Linked DNA regions of Homo sapiens. The protein of the gene in region 2 interacts with the protein of the main gene of each other region in a biochemical or structural test. Each region holds a gene or a part of one and is shown on either strand. Other genes may lie near its edges.

Region 1 (4,659 bases), on a different chromosome or scaffold from region 2:
GATGAAACGGCGACCGCATGTGGGCCACTGGGCAGAGATCAAGGTGTTTCCAGGCCGCTGCTTGGTCTCCCTAACAGATTTCTTGCCCACAGATGGGGTTGCTTTCTGAGATGTGTAAGGGACACAGGCTATGGTCTTCCACTACCCACCTTGGCCACAAAACCAGAGCTCTGCCAATAGATTCAGGCAGTGTGGCCTGGTGGTGGGCATCCTGCCAACGGGGCCTTTTCCCAGACTAAGCAGAGAGGGTATCCTGCACCTGAAGGAGCCAGCTCTGGAAAGCCCGTCAGCAGGCTAGGCAGGGAGGAGGGGGCCGTGCCTCCAGCGTCCCGTGCGCAGACAAGGACATGGGGTGGGACGCAACCCTGGCTTGGAGCAAACAGTGTGATCAAACACAAAGAGTCACATGATGGTTGGAGGTTGCCTTGAAAACTGGTACCTGCGGTGCTCTGGCTTTGTGGGTGTGGGTGGAAGAGGGCATCTGACTCTCGGAAGAGTGCCCGGTTCTCTTTTTCTACAGAAAACCAAATTGTGAACCCCAATCCTAAACTATTCATCTATCATTTCTTTCTTTTTTTTTTTTTTTGAGATGGAGTCTCACTCTGTCACCCAGGCTGGAGTGCACCGGTGTGATCTCGGCTCCCTGCAACCTCCACCTCCCAGGTTCACGCCATTCTCCTGCCTCAGCCTCCCGAATAGATGGGACTACAGGCGCACACTGCCATGCCCGGCTAATTTTTTGTATTTTAGTAGAGATGGGGTTTTACCATGTTGCCCAGGCTGGTCTCGAACTCCTGAGCTCAGGTAATCCGCCCTCCTCTGCCTCCCACAGTGCTGGGATTACAGGCATAAGCATGAGCAACCACGCCTGGCCCTCTTTTTTTTTTTTTTTTGAGATGGAGTCTCGCTCTGTCACCCAGGCTGGAGTGCAGTGGTGTGATCTCGGCTCACTGCAACCTCTGCCTTCCAGGTTCAAGCAATTCTCCTGCCTCAGCCTCCTGGGTAGTTGGGATTACAGGTGCCCACGACCATGCCTAGCTAATTTTTGTATTTTTAGTAGAGACGGGGTTTCACCATATTGGTCAGGCTGGTCTCCAACTCCTGACCTCAGGTGATCCACCTGCCTCAGCCTCCCAAAGTGCTGGGATTACAGGCATGAGCCACCGCGCCTGGCCTATTATTTATTTCTTTAAGGCCAAAATGCAAACAGATTCCCGCCTGCTAGTTGCTGCATGTGACCCTCAGCTGAGGGTGATGGGGTTCCTAGAGCTTGGTGGTCTCCAAGGGGAGGTGCAGGAGGACTCCAGGAGTCCCATTCGCACCCCATGGTGGGGGCAGGTTGTTAGGAAGAAAGACAACTTAACTCTGCTTCGAATTTTTTTTAGAGAGTCTCGCTTTGTCGCCTAGGCTGGAGTGCAGTGGCGCGATCGTGGCTCGCTGCAGCCTTGAACTCCTGGCCTCAAGGCATCCTCCTCAACCTCCCAAGTCGCGGGGACTATAGGCATGTGCCACCATGCCTGGATAATGTTTTTATTTTTTGTAGAGATGTGGTCTTGCCATGTTGCCCAGGTTGGTTTTGAACTCCTGGGCTCAAGCCATCCTCCCATCTCAGCTTCCCAAGTACCTGGGACCACAGGCACATGCCACCATGCCCAGCTAGTTTTTTAAAAAATCATTTTTTGTAGAGACGAGGTCTCCTTGTGTTGCCTGGTCTCAAACTCTTGGATTGCCTCAAGTGATCCTCCCGCCTCAGCCTCCCAAAGTGCTGGGATTACAGTGTGAGCCACTGTGCCCAGCCTGCTTTCAATTCTGAAATCCAAGGGAGAAATATAAGCTGGCAAACAAAAGTTTTAGCCATCCCAATTTTGGGCTGTACTAATCATATCCAGGATAGAGACTCGAAGCTAAAAGTTACCTTTTCTTTCACTCTCGTAATCCAGGAAAGTTCTAATTGGGACAAGCCTCTGGAGCTGCCTAGTGTGGGTGTCTGCTGGAAACTTCTAAAATGTCTCGGCCTATTTAATTGGAGAATTCACTGAAGAATTAAAGGACTCAGTAAAGAAGAGGTTTGGTTTGTTCATGAAAGTAAGTAGCTTGTGAAATGCTTTATTTTCCTGTGACTAAAATTCCACCTTGTAATTCCCAATAAGGATTGCTTCAAGCTATTTAATACAAATTAAACCTGTTTCACCATGCTCATAGGAAAATGTCAAAGTATCTTCATTCACCAACTGAGGGCTGGCTCTTCTTTGAAGGTAGCTCTGAGATTTGTTTTGTAATGGAGACAAAGACTTATTTAACTGTTGGGGAGGGGGAAGGAGGACTTAGGCCAGGCAGGCGGGGATGTGGGGGACGAACCATGAGGGGCAATTTGGCTGCCTCTGAAAAGGTCCAGAGCTACCTTAAAAGACAGGCTTTCTATAACAAGTGGTCCTTTCTTTTCCTTTCTTTTTTTTTTTGAGACAGAGTCTCACTCTGTTGCCCAAGCTGGAGTGCAGTGGTGCGATCTCAGCTCACTGCAACCTCCAGCTCCCAGGTTCAAGCAATTCTCCTGCCTCAGCCTCCCAAGTAGCTGGGATTACAGGCAACCGCTACCATGCCCAGCTAATTTTTTGTATTTTTAATAGAGATGGGGTTTCACCATGTTGGCCAGGGTGGTCTCAAACTCCTGACCTCAAGTGATCCACCCACCTCAGCCTCCCAAAGTGCTGGGATTACAGACATGAGCCACCGCGCCCAGACACAGCTGGCTTTGTCGCCCAGGCTGGAAGTGCAGTGGCACGATCTCGGCTCACTGCAAGCTCTGCCTCCTGGGTTCACGCCATTCTCCTGCCTCAGCTTCCCAAGTAGCTGAGACTACAGGCGCCCGCCACCACGCCCGGCTAATTTTTTGTATTTTTAGTGGAGATGGTGTTTCACCATGTTAGCCAGGATGGTCTTGATCTCCTGACCTCGTGATCCGCCTGTCTTGGCCTCCCAAAGTGCTGGGATGACAGGCGTGAGCCACCACGCCTGGCTTACAAGTGGCCCTTTCTAAGCCCCAAGATGTCACTGTCTTTTCACTGAAGGCGGAAAAAGAATGTAGGCATGTTTGTCTGAGAGGGAGGGAGTAGTTTTAGGAGAAAGGACCAAGAGCACATTTTGAGTGGGAAGTAAGTGGTTTCCTTTTCTAGCCTTATGATATGGTTTGGCTCTGTGTCCCCACCCAAATCTCATGGTGAACTGTAATCCCCAGTGGTGGAGGTGAGGCCTGGCGGGAGGGACTGGATCATGGGGGTGATCCTTCATGAATGGTTTAGCACCATCCTCTTGGTGCTACTCTAGTGATAGCGTTCTCACAAGATCTGATGGGTGAAAAGTGTGTGTCTCTTGTTTTTGCTCCTGCCATGCAAGACGCCTACTCCCACTTCACCTTCTGCTATGAGTCAAATTCCCTGAGGCCTCCCCAGAAGCAGAAGCTTCCTGTACAGCCTTGTGGGCCACGAGCCAATTAAACCTCTTTTCTTTATAAATTACCAGGTCTCAGGGATTTCTTTATAGCAGACTAATACACCTCAAAGTAGGGATTTATTTTATTATTCTATTTTTTTTTTGAGATAGGGTCTCGATCTGTCACCCAGGCTGGAGTGCAGTGGCATGATCTCAGCTTGCTGTAACCTCTGCCTCCCGGGTTGAAGCAATTCTCATGCCTAAGCCACCCAAGTAGCTGGAATTACAGGTGTGTGCCACCCTGCTCAGCTAATTTTTGTATCTTTAGTAGAGTTGGGGTTTCTCCATGTTGGCCAGGCTGGTATCAAACTCCTGGACTCAAGCAATCTGCCCACCTTGGCCTCCCCAGAGTGCCAGGATTACAGGCATGACCCATCTTGCCTGGTCAGTTTTTTTTTTTTTAAATCCAGTTAATGCTGGGTGCCATGACTCACACCTGTAATGCCAGTGCTTTGGGAGGCCGAGGTGGGAAGATCACTTGAGGCCAGGAGTTTGAGACCAGCCTGGGAAACATCTCATCTCTACCAAAAAACAAAAACAAAACAAAACAACAACAACATCAAACATAGCCAGGTGTGGTGGTGCACACCTGTAGTCCCAGCTCCTTGGGAGGCTGAGGCAGGAGGATTGCTTGAGCCCAGGAGTTCAAGGCTGCAGTGAACTATGATTGCACCACTGCATTCCAGCCTGGGCAACAGAGCAAGAACCTATCTCTATTTAAGAAAAAATGCTCCTAAGAAATCATCTTAGTACTTGGTAAGCTATTAAGGTTTTTTTTAAGTGTATTAATTACATAGCCAGTATAATAACTTAGTTGCTAAGAGCTTTGAGGTGGCTCCAAGCAAGAAGAAAGGAGTTGTTGTTAAGCTACAGCTCAGAGTCTCAGAATGAACTGTTTCCATCTTCGCTGTCCTTTGCTTAACTGTGGGATAAATATAATTTTCTCAACATTCAACACATGTGTCCTTAATCGTCCTCTACGACACTGGTTCCATGTTGCCAAGAGAACCCAGAACAGCCGCAAACACCTACTGGATTGTTACTGGCCTTTCCTGAGAGGATGACCCGGGCTTTGACCTTGTTCATGTTGAAGTTCTTCAAGTAGGCCTCGTAGATTCTCTTGGCCAGAGATTTGAGATCTGCAGTTTCAGAATCTTCTATGTCATGTTC
Region 2 (3,540 bases):
AAAAGGCTCTATGGGTACTCAGGACTGTTAACAGATGGCAAAAACAAAACAAAACAAAACAAAACAAAACTCCATGGCGACCTCTAAGGCAGAAGTTTATGTCCATGGGTATTAAATATCAAAAGAAGGACTGCTTAGCATCAAAAGGCTTCAGGAAGCTTTTAGCCGAATTTCCTTTTGTCACATTGACTTCACCTTATAATCTGCTTGGCAGTAATATCACGAAGAAATCATGATGGATGAGCTCAGTCTGCTCTACATCTGGAGTAAAGGCTTTTCTTCTTCTTCTTTTTTTTTTTTTTTTTTGAGACAGGGTCTTGCTTTGTTGCCCACGCTAGAGTGTAGTGGTGCGATCACAGCTCACTGCAGCCTCCTCCTGGGCTCTAAGCAATATTCCAGCCTCAGCCTCCCAAAGTGCTGGGATTATAGGTTTGAGCCATCGTGACTGGCAAAGGCTTTTCCTTTAGCTATCAGATCCCTGTTAGGAAAGTAAAGCTGAGGCCGGGTGCAATGGCTCATGCCTGTAATCCCAGCACTTTGGGAGGCCAAGGCAGGTGGATCACCTGAAGTCAGGAGTTCGAGACCAGCCTGGCCAACATGGTGAAACCCTGTCTCTACTAAAAATACAAAAAAAATTAGCCGGGCATGGTGGCGGGCGCCTGTAGTCCCAGCTACTCAGGAGGCTGAGGCAGAAGAATGGTGTGAACCCGGGAGGCGGAGCTTGCAGTGAGCTGAGATCGTGCCACTGCACTCCAGCCTGGGCGACAGAGCAAGACTCCGTCTCAAAAAAAAAAAAAAAAAAAAATTAGCTGGGCGTGGTGGTGTGGTGGGCGCCTGTAATCCCAGCTACTTGGGAGGCTGAGGCAGGAGAATCTCTTGAGCCTGGGAGGCGGAGGTTGCGGTGACCTGAGATTGCGCCTCTGCACTCCAGACTGGCCGACAAGAGCGAAACTCCATCTCAAAAAAAAAAAAAAAAAGAAAAGAAAAGAAAAGAAAATTAAAGCTGCAAGGCTACCACAGTAACAGGATAACTAAACCTAACAGACAGAAGAAACAACAGGAAGTTCTTACCATCTGGAATATGTAGTATCAGCCAGTCCTGTTTTGCACAGAAATGAATAACATGGCAAAGACTTAGGGTTTTTCCTGTTCCCTTCTCTCCATCTAAAGTATATGTTGTTAAAGAAAACATGACTGGAAGGATCACTTGTATGTGAACAGTAGTTATGCTTTGTTTTGTTTTTTTGAGATGGGGTTGGAGTGCAGTGGCTTGATATCAGCTCACAGCAACCTCCGCTTCCCGGGTTCAAGCGATTCTCCTGCCTCAGCTTCCCAAGTAGCTGGGATTACAGGTGCACGCTACCACACCCGGCTAATATATTGCATTTTTAGTAAATGCGGGGTTTCGCCATGTTGGCCAGGCAGGTCTTGAACTCCTGACTTCAGGCGATACGCCTGCCTCGGCTTCCCAAACTCCTGGGATTATAGGTGTGAGCTACCATGCCCGGCCTCAACAGTACTTTTTTTCATTTCTTCTGTTGCCTTATTTGAGGGGAGAAAGCATTGGTTCATGAGGGTCCACGCAGGCAGGAAAGGATACACAGAAGATATCGTATAGCTGGATAAGCAAAACTGGTGTTTTTCAGGTAATGCAGAAGTTCTAGGGCTGGTTTCCTTACCATCAGGCAAGCTTCACTGAATGTCTTCACCTGATAAAGTAGGAAAGAAGGAAAGAGTGGGTGGGTGTGGAAGGAGTGGGTGGGGGGTGGTATATATACTCTGCCTAAAGTGGCAACCAAGACCATCAGATTGCATGCCTCTAATTTACTCAGTTAGGAGAAGCTGGGTTGGTACTGAGTTTGAAAATCTATCCATATAACTTAGCTAAAAACTGAAATACATTATTCCGCACTAAGTAACATGATAGTCAGCTTTTGATTATTCCTATTACTGAAGCATATATTCTATCTCAGCTGAAATCTATAAATAATTGATATATCTCATAACAAAATTATGTATACCACTTAGGGCCACTGTAAATATGGAAAGCATATAGAAAAATGCTTAAAATTTCTGACACAAGTTAATAATTCAATAAACATTAACTCTTTAAATTTTTTTTCTTTTTTTTTTTTTGAGACGGAGTTTCACTCTTGTTGCCCAGGCTGGAGTGCAATGGCACGATCTCGGCTCACCACAACCTCTGCCTCCCAGTTCAAGTGATTCTCCTGCCTCAGCCTCCCGAGTAGCTGGGATTACAGGCACCCACCACCATGCCCGGCTATTTTGTATTTTTAGTACAGAAGGAGTTTCTCCATGTTGGTCAGGCTGGTCTCAAACTCCCGACCTCAGGTGACACCCCCGTCTTGGCCTCCCAAAGTGCAGGGATTACAGGCGTGAGCCACTGCACCTGGCCTAAAATTTATTTTTAGTTGATTTTTTTTTTTTTTCTTTTTTTGAGACAGAGTCTCACTCTGTCACCCAGGCTAGAGTGCAGTGGTGTGATCTCGGCTCACTGCAACCTCCGCCTCCGGGGTTCAAGCAATTCTTCTGCCTCAGTCTCCTCAGTAGCTGGGATTACAGGTGCCACCACCATGCCAGGCTGATTTTTGTAATTTTAGTAGAGACAGGCTTTCACCATGTTGGTCAGGCTGGTCTCGAACTCCTGACCTCATGATCCACCCGTCTCAGCCTCCCAAGGTGCTGGGATTATAGGCGTGAGCCACCGCACCTGGCCTAAAATTTATTTTTATTACTTTAACCATTTAGACTTTTTTCTCTAGAACTAAATACATGGCGGCTCAGGAGCAGGTGTGACCAGCTGCCTCACAACTCTAAGGCCATCCATACCTCATACCTCCAGCATACTAACCTTTCAGAGTTTAATTCCCCTTTTGCTACCAGAATACTTTGGTGGGAAATTTGGGAAGTACTAATGTGTGTGAAACTGATTTGCAAAGAAAATATTAAAATATGTCTACTAATAAGAATATCTAACAAATACTGTTTGTAAGTATAACTAAAATAGTGTTAATTTTTTTTTTTTTTTTTTGAGACAGAGTCTCGCTCTGTCGCACAGGCTGGAGTGCAGTGACACGATCTCAGCTCACTGCAACCTCCGCCTCCCGGGTTCAAGCGATTCTCCTGCTTCAGCCTCACAAGTAGCTGTGACTACAGGCGTGTGCCACCACGCCCAGCTAATTTTTGTATTTTTAGTAGAGATGGAGTTTCACCATGTTGGCCAGGCTCATCTTGAACTCCTGGCCTTAAGTAATCTGCCCACCTCAGCTTCCCAAAGTGCTGGAATTACAGGCGTGAGCCATTGTACCCAGCCAGTGTTGATATTTTTAAAAGAAATCCTAACAAAACAATTGAATTGGTGTAGGATTTGACAGGCAATTCCAAACTTAATGGAAGGCTCAATGTTCAAAAAAACATGATAAAGGTATTAAAACAAATGTTGGCTGGGCGTGGTGGCTCATCCCTGTAATCCCAGCACTTTGGGAGGCCAAGACAGGTGGATCACCTGAGGTTAGGAGT

The links. The genes of interacting proteins can lie anywhere in the genome.
Region 1: the proteins of DAP3 (region 2) and PPARA form a complex in vitro, tested with the Homo sapiens proteins (one study listed by BioGRID).

What each region holds. Positions count from the first base shown.
Region 1 is NC_000022.11:46,219,877-46,224,535, reverse strand, and holds part of PPARA (peroxisome proliferator-activated receptor alpha), read right to left. Parts: coding exon 4,522-4,659; intron 1-4,521. UniProt on the Homo sapiens protein: Ligand-activated transcription factor. Key regulator of lipid metabolism. Activated by the endogenous ligand 1-palmitoyl-2-oleoyl-sn-glycerol-3-phosphocholine (16:0/18:1-GPC). Activated by oleylethanolamide, a naturally occurring lipid that regulates satiety.
Region 2 is NC_000001.11:155,723,551-155,727,090, reverse strand, and holds part of DAP3 (small ribosomal subunit protein mS29), read right to left. Parts: intron 1,710-3,540; coding exon 1,601-1,709; intron 1,165-1,600; coding exon 1,072-1,164; intron 1-1,071. UniProt on the Homo sapiens protein: As a component of the mitochondrial small ribosomal subunit, it plays a role in the translation of mitochondrial mRNAs. Involved in mediating interferon-gamma-induced cell death. Displays GTPase activity in vitro.